Homo sapiens: one gene and its partners. The protein of the gene in region 1 interacts with the protein of each later gene in a biochemical or structural test. Each region holds a gene or a part of one and is shown in the gene's direction. Other genes may lie near its edges. The genes, in order: INSR, PTPRB and CCDC88A.

Region 1 (3,655 bases):
GAAGCCAACCTCGGCCTCATTGAAGAAATTTCAGGGTATCTAAAAATCCGCCGATCCTACGCTCTGGTGTCACTTTCCTTCTTCCGGAAGTTACGTCTGATTCGAGGAGAGACCTTGGAAATTGGGTACGTGGGCCTGATTGTGTGTATGGCCTGAGTGCTAACTAGGAAGTTCGTGTATTAGAACAACTTAAGGATTTTTTTGGCCAGGTGTGGTGGCTGATGCCTGTAATCCCAGCATTTTAGGAGGCCAACGTGGGTGAATCACTTGAGGCGGGGAGTTCAAGACCAGCCTGGCCAACATGGTGAAACCCTGTCTCTACTAAAAGTACAAAAATTAGCCAAGTGTGATAGTGCATGCCTGTAATCCCAGCTACTTGGGAGGCTGAGGCAGGAGAATAGCTTGAACCTGGGAGGCAGAGGTTGCAGTGAGCCAAGATCACACTACTGCACTCCAGCCTGGGTGACAGAGTGAGACTCTGTCCAAAAAAAAAAAAAGAAAAGAAAAGGAAAAACTTAAGGATTTTTTAAAAATCAAATAAAAACAAATAAAAAACAAATAAAAGTATATCTGGCAAAACCTCGGGAAAAAAGAACTTGGAATGTGCCTAAAGGTCCATCCAGCCAAAAATTGTAAAAGCTTTTTTATAGTCATTCTTGAGAAACAAAAGTGGGAGCAGCCCAACCTTGGTGCCCATCCTCCAAGGGTACAGGCTGGAATTTTTGCTAAATTTGCTGTTTGGGCTGCATTGTGAGTAGAGTTTGGCATGCATAAAATGAACATTCCCTCTTAGTCCCGGTTGTCCATCCTAATTTCTGGGATGGACTCCATCTCAGTATATTCCAGTATATTCCAACCTTCTCCTTGAGGTCCTAGAAACTCTATTAGCAAAACAGCAGAAACTCAAACTAGCTAGATCAAGATTGACTCATAGGCAGGAGGTCTGTGGAAGACCCAGATTCTTTCCATCTTTGTGCTCCTCATGGTCACAAGATGGCTGCCTCAGCCCCAGCCTCACATCTGTAGAACAGACAGCAAATGGGGAAAGGGACAAAAGGACATGTTAATCAACATGAGCTGGTAAGTGACTTGAGAAGGTGGTCTAAACAATATAGTTTAGACTATATTATCTGTACTCCAGCCTAGGCACCAGAGTGAGAATCCATCTCAATAAAACAAACAAACAAACAAACAAAAACCTTCAATGGCTCCTTTCTCCTTATTAAGGATGGCCACATGTTCTTGGTCTTGGTCTGGCATGCAATATACTAGAGGGTCTGGTCCATTGCAACTACAGCTATTTCCTGTCACCTATTGGCCAAAACAGGCTACTTTGCTCTTCCCTGAACTCAGCTTAGGTGCCTCTGTGTTATCAGTATTTCCCCTATTTGCAGAAATTGGTTTCTGCAAAACCTATTCCTCAGTCCATCACAGACTCACCACCCCTCTTCAAGACTGAGCTGAGCCTCCTTCCTGGCCATGAAAACTTCCTCAACTTCCTCTGTTATCCACATTCAACAAATATGTGTTGAGTATGTGCCAAGCAAGTGGAGAGGATTAGGCACGTAGCACTGAACAAGATCAACTCCGAGCATGGCCACACCATCTTGGAGTTGTAGAAGACCAGCCGTTGAATGACTAGATGTGTGTGTTTTTTCCATAGGAACTACTCCTTCTATGCCTTGGACAACCAGAACCTAAGGCAGCTCTGGGACTGGAGCAAACACAACCTCACCATCACTCAGGGGAAACTCTTCTTCCACTATAACCCCAAACTCTGCTTGTCAGAAATCCACAAGATGGAAGAAGTTTCAGGAACCAAGGGGCGCCAGGAGAGAAACGACATTGCCCTGAAGACCAATGGGGACCAGGCATCCTGTAAGTCACTGGTCCCCAACCTTTTTGGCATGAGGGACCGGTGTAGTGGAAGATGGTTTTTCCATGGACTGGTGGTGGGTGGGGATGGTTTCAGCATGATTCAAGTGCATTACATTTACTATGCACTTTATTCCTATTATGATTACATTGTAATATATAATGAAAGAATTGTACAACTCACCATCATGTAGAATCAATGGGAACCCTGAGCTTGTGTTCCTGCAACTAGATGGTCCCAGCTGGGGGTGATGGGAGACAGTGACAGATCATCAGGCATTAGATTTTCATAAGGAGTGTGCAGTCTAGGTACCTCATGTACACAGTTCACAATAGGGTTCACACCCCTGTGAGAATCTAATGCCGCCGCTAATCTGACAGGAGGCAGAACTCAGGTGGTCATGCAAGCGATGGGGAGTGACTGTAAATACAGATGAAGCTTCACTTGCTCACCTATCACTCACCTCCTGCTGTACAGCCCTGTTCGTAACAGGCCATGGATAAGTACTGGTCTGTGGCCCAGGGGCTGGGGACCCCTGCTGTAAGTGGTCCACAAACCAGATAATGTGGCTGTCCTCTCTCATCCATCACAGTCACCCCCAGGGGGTATTACTTCCCTCTAACAACTCACTGTGTGATAGGCTTTCTTACTGAGGGCAGATTCTGCACATTTATTAATATTATCACTATGCTTACTGTGCCATATAGTACCGGATACGGGATGAAGTCATACAAGCACTGAATGAATGGATGAATGAATGATGGATGAATGGATGACACCTTCTTATATGTGTATCAGGCTGATGCTGAAGACTTCAAAGTTGAGTAAAATACCTATGTCAGTCTGCATCTCCTGGGAAGTGACTGCCAAGTTGAAGTTAGGAGTGCAGAAAATGTATTGAGGGTAATATTCATAAAATATGAAACAGAGGAAGAGCTTCTTTTTTTTTTTTTTTTTTTTTTGGGACAGAGTCTTGCTCTGTCACCCAGGGCTGGAGTGCAGTGGCGTGATCTTGCCTCACTGCAACCTCCTTCCCCTGGGTTCAGGTAATTATCTCGCCTCAGCCTCCAGAATAGCTGGGATTACAGGCACATGCCACCAAGCCCGGCTAATTTTTTTTTTTGTATTTTTAGTAGAGACAGGGTTTTGCCATGTTGGCCAGGGTGGTCTTGAACTCCTGACCTCAGGTGATCCTCCCGCCTCGGCCTCCCAAAGTGCTGAGATTACAGGTGTGAGTCACCACGCTCAGCCATGAAGAGCCTTTTGACAATAGCGTGTGTCTGACCTCTGTGAACAGAGAGCGGGAAGGAGGGAGGATAGGGCTGGGAGAGTCTCAGATGGTGATGCATCCCTGAGTCTTGGCCAAACCCAGAAAGAGATCAAGGCCACGGTTGTCTGCAGGGAAGTTCTGCATTGCAAAGGGACGGCCAGGCATCTACCAAGCTCAGTCATAGGTGGGGGCTGTCCAGGGAGAGTCAGGTTTTGGCTGGAATGCTACAGCAGGTCCTGCAGTTTCTGCAGCTGCAGGCTGCCTGCTGACTGCACTTCCCTGACAGATTCTAAACAGTGAGCTGCCAAGGGCTTCTGGGATACCTTCATGGGGAGTTAGTTACTTATGTCAAAATGTAGTGCAAGGGCTGGGCATGGTGGCTCACGCCTGGAATCCCAGCACTCTGGGAGGCCGAGGCAGGCAGATCACTTGAGGTCAGGAGTTCGAGACCAGCCTGGCCAATGTGGTGAAACTCCATCTCTACTAAAAAAAAAAAATACAAAAACTAG
Region 2 (3,655 bases), on another chromosome or scaffold:
GCTCTATTGGATTTATTTCCATTTAATTGCATCATGTGTTATGTCTTGGTAAACACTCCATTTCCTGTCTTGGTGGGCATCCTGTCTGTGTACCTGTGCAGTACACTTTAATCATCAAGACTTCAAAGTGCTTTTGAGCTATCAAATCTTGGGAGAGTCCCATCTAGCATCTTAATAATTATTTTTCCAAGTTCGTTATAATTAACTCCTTTAACCTCATCTCATTAAATCAATTTTGTATTGTCATTCTGTTGTTCTCTGGAAAGCAGCCAATTGTTCAGCTCTTGAATCAGAATTTTCAAAGACTCACCTCTCTTACCTGGGCTTGCACATATTTGTCCTAAGTAATTCTCTATCCCTTAAACCTCTGAGTCCCTCTGTTTTATTACTTGCCCCACTCCTCCTACTTGAATATGTTTGTTTTCCCAGTTGAATGTGATTTTTATCTACTGTTCATATTATCTTTTATACCCATGAGTATAATTTCATAGTCCTTTCAGGTTCCACATCATCAAAGAGATGACCATAATTTCACTTTTTTTTGAAATGAAGTCTTGCTCTGTTGCCCAGGCTGGAGTGCAGTGGCACAATCTCAGCTCACTACAACCTCCGCCTCCCAGGTTCAAGCGATTCTGCCTTAGCCTCCCAAGTAGCTGGAATTACAGGTGCCTGCCACCATGTCTGGCTAATTTTTGTGTTTTTAGTAGAGATGGGGTTTCACCATGTTGGCCAGGCTGGTCTTGAACTCGTGACCTTAGGTGATCCACCCACCTCAACCTCCCAAAGTGCTAGGATTACAAGAGTGAGCCACCGCACCTGGCCAATTCACTTTTAAATACTAAAAGGCACACAGCACACAGACATTTTCGGGGCAGTTTTCTTTGGGAGGGTCTTTGATAAATTTTGTAATCACCTCTCGGAAGAAAGCCCAAAATGACATGTGAAAATAATATTAAACCATTTACCAGATGTCCAGCAATATAAAAATAGACCTCACATGCTACCCTTCACATGCTGATTCTCTTGCCTTGCTGTTTAAGGATCCAGTTTCTTATGTTAAACATTTTCCTTACCTTTTGCAATAATATTATTGGCCATATACTAAATTCTCATTCACTTAGCTTTCTAAGAATTCTTTGAGGTTGGAATCCTGAAATCATAAAGCTACCAGATCTGCACAACAGCAGTGGTAGTATCTGAGCCCAAACTCTGAGACGCTCTAGAGTTTTAGTTTACAAACATGAGCCAGACCAAACCTGACCTGGTGAAAATCAATAGGTAATAAACTGCTTGTATATGATAGCAGTTCAAGGGCTTTCTGGGTTCCATTTCACTGAGGAAATGAAAATATAACTGATTAGCCAAGACAGAGTGGCAATAAGGAATAACTGATCCTCCTCCAAGTTGCAGTGAGCAAGCCCTCAAGCCTACCTCATTCCTGAAGAGTTGAAGGAGAAAATGCCGTGCTAATTTTCTGCCCTGCTATTTTTAACCTGAAATTTAGAATTACATCAGGTATTCAAAGAATGTTCCCTATCAAAGGAAAATCTGTAAACGATGACTGCAAAAAGCAAGTGAAATGATGCAAAGAGAAAATATTTGCAAAACAGAATCTAACCAGACATCATCATGAAGATAAAATGGCATCTCTTCTGTGTGGCCTGGGTGTGCTTGGACAATCCTGTCACACGTTTCTATTAGGACATGTTGCCCTTTTGAGGATTCACTCTATGTTGGCCAGATGGTTTAACTGATTAAACAATTGAATCAATTTATTTTGCTTTTTGAATTGACCAGATATTTAACTAAATGTACTGGGTTTGGCATTTTAGACACACTGCCTTAGATTCTTGTAGTGCATGATGACTTTGAAAATGTTTGGCCATTTTAGTTAAAATGCAGGGTAACATTTGATGCAGCCATGATAACAGGAAAAATCTGTTCTGTTCTAAAAATGTTTCTAGCAATAGAAGTATTTCTGGCTAAGAGAATACTCTTGACTTGTAGGGAGGCTCCCTCGGAATAAATGTATGCAACACAAATAAGGCATTTTATTTTTTAAAAGATTGTCTATATAAGATACACTTATTAAATAAAGAAATTGTTGGTGAATGCTCTGAAAATAGAGGCTTATGTAATGGAAATAAGAGATTAACAGGTTTACCAAAGATTATTTTTATAACCTCTATGCCAATTCACATGATCTTATATAAGACACCAAAATAAGTTATTCAAAACTGTGAATAATGTCAGACAAATGCAATGTGTCCCTTCTAGAACAGTCACAAAAAGAATTGGTTATAGCTATTTTAATAAATAATATCCTCACCCCAAGAACAAACGTTCAGTTATGCTGAGATGTTCTAATAGCTGTGTGCGTAGATAAGCACCTCCATCAAGAAAGGAACACATGAAATTGTGGCTTTAAGAGTTTGTGGCAGAGTTGGACAGCATTCCATCTGCAGGTTAGTAGGAAAGCCTGTACCAGCCTTTGTGGAATGTCCTAGTCTGCCACACTGACAAGAGGGTGCACCAGTGCTCTACTGGAAGAGTATTTCTGGTTTTCTATGCAGGACTATTGGGCTTATAAATTCCTCAAGAACAAGGACCAAGTCTTTAATCTCGTCTCGACTCCTACCTTGTGGAAATTAGTGCACAGCTCATAGACATTCTACACACACTTCTTGAAATTGCTCCTGGCCTGATATTTTGGATGTTAGGTAGTCAGTGTCCAATAATACTGTTGTCCGTGCAGGTTAATCTAGCCATTCCTTCATTTGTGTGAAGCATAAATAATGTAAGTAAATACAGCAACTGAACTTTTTATGTTCTATAATAGAGCACTTTTATGTTTTTAATATCATTTATTATTTCTCTGAAAATCCAGTTAAGATGGCAGATGATTCTATTTTTTCATATTATAGCATCTACCCACAATATTTCTAACTAACTGTATTTGAACAAAGAACTTCCTTAGTCTTTCAATTTAAATTATGTATTTGCTTAATACATTTTTATATTTGTAACTGTGGTAAAAAAAAAATCTATATAGCATCTTGCATACATTCTCACTAGTACAGGAATAAAACTGCAGTTTGTTGAAGGAGAGTGCTCTGTCTTCTATTCACCTGCTCCTCATTTATCAATTTTTGTCATCTGTCTGTTCAGGAGAAAGGCCAAAAGTGACTGCTTTAAAATGAGAAAAATCTTCCAGGACATTATCATGAAGAATATAGTTGTCTTAACCTTTAGTCCTGTAAGTACTGAGTTGGTTACCTACAGTATTGTGTACATAATAATAGACTCTCCAGCTGACCGTCTCCAACTAAATTCCTGTTTTCAGTTCTTTACTTCATTAATAACCAAAATGTCATCTGTTACCAACAGTGTTGGTGTACTCTCAGAGGTACTGCCCTGGCTAGATTTCCACTGAGCCCTTCAGAGACACTTCACACATTTGCGGACAGTGTGGCATTTGGTAAAGAGACGCCATGACTATTTCCAGAGTTATGAGTTTGCCCTTTTGCCTTTTTCATATTTTAGTGGAAAGATCACTGTCCTTCACAACTCCAATATTTCATTTTTCTATAACTTGTTCACAGAAACCTTTATTTTTTTAAAAAATGTACAGTAGCAGATTTACAAATAAAATCAT
Region 3 (3,655 bases), on another chromosome or scaffold:
GACCTATAAAATTAAAGGAAAAGAAAAGAAAAAAAAAGTATACTTTTGCTTTGTTTGAATAATTTGCTAAAATAAGATCAAATTTATCTTAATAAATTATTTAACTGATAGGGCAACAAAATATACATTGTTTTATAAGCTGTATTTTGCTAATTTTGAAGTCATTAGGATTTCTGTTAAGCACTTTACTTAGATTAATGTATGCTTTAATGTACTCTATTATAAAGTGTCAGTTGTAACTCTATACCTAGTAAATGTAAAAGTTAGGCCTAGTCTAATTTCTACAGTACATTTAGTTACAGAATTTGTGAGCAAGAACCCTTTGTAAATGAAACTATTTATATATTTTCCATGTTTCTTGTGCTTGGAATTCAATGAGTGTCTTGGATCTGTGGGTTTATAGTTTTTATCAAATTTAGAAAAGTTTCAGTCATTATTCCTAGAAGAAAATATATACATATATATATATATATATATATATATATATATATATATATATATTTATTTATTTATTTATTTGACCTCTTCACCCTTTTGGAAGTCCAGTTACATATATATTAGTAGCTTTGATGTTGTCTTAAAACTTACTGATGTTTAATTCAATTTTCTTTCAGTCTTCTTTGTTTCATTTTGGATAGTCTGTTGTGATGTCTCCAAATTTATTAATTTTTTCTTCTATAATGTTTAGTCTGCTCTTAATCCCACCCACCATATTTTTCATTCCAGATATTATAACTTCATCTTTAGAAATTGTCTTATATCTTCCATGTCTATGTTTTTCATGCTCTGTCTTTTCTCTAGCTTCTTGAACATATGGAATACAGTTATAATTGGCTTAATGTCTATGTCTGCTAATTCTGTCTGTGTCATTTTGGGGTTGGTTTCGGTTGATTGATATTTCTTCCCATTATGGATTCTGTTGCTTTTGCATGCCTGGTGATTTTTTTTTTAATTTGATGCCAGTCATTTGAAATTTTAGCTTGTTTGGCGCTGGATATTTTTGTATTCCATTAAATACAAAAATCTTGAGCTTCGTTCTGGGATGCATTAAGTTACCTGAAAACAGTTTGATCTTTTGGGGACATGCTTTTAAGATTTGTTAGGCAGTACTACTTTGTCACACTGTTGAGGCAAAACCCCTCTGAATACTCCAGCTGGTGGAAACAGGACCTACTTGGTGGTGTTCGCTCTCAGTCTTTTTGGTGGTTCTTTCACTATCTTTGGGTAGTTTCCTCACACTTATATTCTGATAAGTACTCAGACTTGAGGGATACCCTCTGCAGATCTTTCTCACTGTTCAACTCTGTTAAGTACTCTGCCCTGTGTACTTTAGCTACCTTGCTGTCTCCAGACTCAGTTCTGTCCCCTCAGCTCAGACCATTGTGCTCTGCCTGGATTCCCCTCTTCCTGTTCTGTGGCCTGGAAACTCTTTCAAGGCCATAATGCTGGAGCAGTTGTTGGATTCATGCTTGTTTCCCATCGATTGGGGATCACTGTCTTTTGTTGCCTGATGTCCAATGTCTTGAAAAACGTTTTATGTATTTTGTCTTTTTTTCCCCCCAGTTGTTTCAGGGAGGAGGGCAAATTTGGTCTCTGGCCACCAGTAGAAATATGTTTGTATACTTTTTTGTTTTTCAAGATGGGGTCTGGCTATGTTGCTCAGGCTGGAATATGTGATCATAGTGCATTATGGCCTCAAACTCCTGGGGTCAGGCCATCCTCCCACCCTAAACATCTGAGTAGTTGGGACTACAGGCACGCGCACCACAATGCCTGGCTGTTTATATACTTTTAATTACATTTTTGCTCTGCTAGTCTTATATTACTGCTTTTAGATGTGAGATGGACTTTTTTTATAGGAACCTTTTTTTTTTTTTTTGAAACAGAGTCTCGCTCCATGCCCAGGCGGGAGTGCAGTGGTGTGATCTCAACTCACTGCAAGCTCTACCTCCCGGGTTCACGCCATTCTCCTGCCTCAGGCTCCCGAGTAACTGGGGCTACAGGCACCCACCACCACGCCTGGCTAATTTTTTGTATTTTTTTAGTAGAGACGGGGTTTCACCGTGTTAGCCAGGATGGTCTCGATCTCCTGACCTCGTGATCCGCCTGCCTCAGCCTCCCAAAGTGCTGGGATTACAGGCATTAGCCACCACACCTGGCCAGGAACCTTATTATATAAGTTTTTTCATCTAAAATGTTTATTAAGACTAAGAAAATTGATTAATTTAATGACTCTGTTGTTGCTGTTTTGCACCCAGACTCTGAAAGTGAAGAGCTAACTTCTTCATGACACTGTTTACTGACTCTGCCTCACAATTTTGAAGTCTTTTCACTGACTTGAGATTTACTGTATTCAGAGATGAATCCTGAATTTCATTGAGTAGCTTTTTGAAGCAAATAATCTCTGTTAGAACTTGTAACATGACTTCAATCGTCTTAAACTAATGGGAAGGAAGAGGAAAGCTATTCAGAGATCTGGAATGATGGGCCAGCTCTTCTGTACGCTGTAGGGCATTTTCCTACTTCAGTGGATTGAAATCTTTTTTCTTTATTGTTATCAGTTGTAGGGCTTGGTGACAGTGAAGTAGAAATAATTATTTTCCTGTTTGAGATGTCATTTAATTCTGGAGCCAGTTTTGAATATTACTTGCTGTGAGTTTTTAAGGAATTTGTGACATTGTAGTTAATTTCATACTCCTAAAATTTTAAAAACGTCCAATTCATATTACCCAAACGGTTGAAAATATGGATGTCTTAGGATTTTAAGTACTGAGAAAATTGTTAATAGTATCAGAACAATATTTGGAATTATTATTTATGATTCAACCCTATTAGATAGTTATAGAGAGCTGTACTTGGAACACTTGGTAATTGTGATAAACTTGTTATGGCTTTTCCTTTAGAATTTTGGGTTTGAAGGGACTTCAGAAGTCATCTGCCCTTTTTTGTTTGTTTGTTTGCTTGTTTTTTTTTTTTGTTTTTGTTTTTGTTTTTTGAGACGGTCTTGTTCTGTTGCCCGGGCTGGAGTGCAGGGGCATGATCACCGCTCACTGCAGCCTTCACCTCCCGGGCTCAAGCTATCCTCCCACCTTAGCCTCCCAAGTACCTAGGACCACAGGCACGCGCTACCATGCTTGACTAATTTTTGTATTTTTTGTAGAGATGGAGTTTCACTGTGTTGCCCAGGCTGGTCTCAAGCGATCCACCCACCTCAGCCTCCCAAAGTTCTGGGATTATAGGCACAAACCAGCCTGACTCTTTGCTTGACTCTATTGACTAGGCTGTGAGTTTCCTGAAGCCAGGGACTCTATCTTTTGTCTCTGTATTCTTAGGACAGTGTTTGACACACAGTACATTCTTGATATATTTCTGTTGAATGATTGAATAATACAGCCATGTGTAGTAAAGTGGAATGAATTTGAGCCTTATGTCAGATAGACATAGACTTGGGTTCAGTTCTAGCTGTGCTACTTATTGGTATGTGAGCCTAATATCTCCAAATTACAGTTCCTACATTTATAAGATGGGAGATAATGTTTCCCTTCCTGATGGGGAAGGATTATCTACTAAGGCAGGGACAGATAAGTCTATTTTCTGTTTTGTTGACCCACTATATCCCCAGTGCTGGTTGCTGTCATTATTATTATCCTGTGCT

The links.
Region 2: of the proteins of INSR (region 1) and PTPRB, one has a biochemical effect on the other in vitro, tested with the Homo sapiens proteins (one large-scale study listed by IntAct).
Region 3: the proteins of INSR (region 1) and CCDC88A form a complex in vitro, tested with the Homo sapiens proteins (one study listed by BioGRID).

What each region holds. Positions count from the first base shown.
Region 1 is NC_000019.10:7,168,760-7,172,414, reverse strand, and holds part of INSR (insulin receptor isoform Long preproprotein), read left to right. Parts: coding exon 1-125; intron 126-1,663; coding exon 1,664-1,878; intron 1,879-3,655. UniProt on the Homo sapiens protein: Receptor tyrosine kinase which mediates the pleiotropic actions of insulin.
Region 2 is NC_000012.12:70,515,318-70,518,972, reverse strand, and holds the end of PTPRB (receptor-type tyrosine-protein phosphatase beta), read left to right. Parts: 3' UTR 1-3,103; downstream 3,104-3,655. UniProt on the Homo sapiens protein: Plays an important role in blood vessel remodeling and angiogenesis. Not necessary for the initial formation of blood vessels, but is essential for their maintenance and remodeling. Can induce dephosphorylation of TEK/TIE2, CDH5/VE-cadherin and KDR/VEGFR-2.
Region 3 is NC_000002.12:55,413,290-55,416,944, reverse strand, and holds part of CCDC88A (girdin), read left to right. Parts: intron 1-3,655. UniProt on the Homo sapiens protein: Bifunctional modulator of guanine nucleotide-binding proteins (G proteins). Acts as a non-receptor guanine nucleotide exchange factor which binds to and activates guanine nucleotide-binding protein G(i) alpha subunits.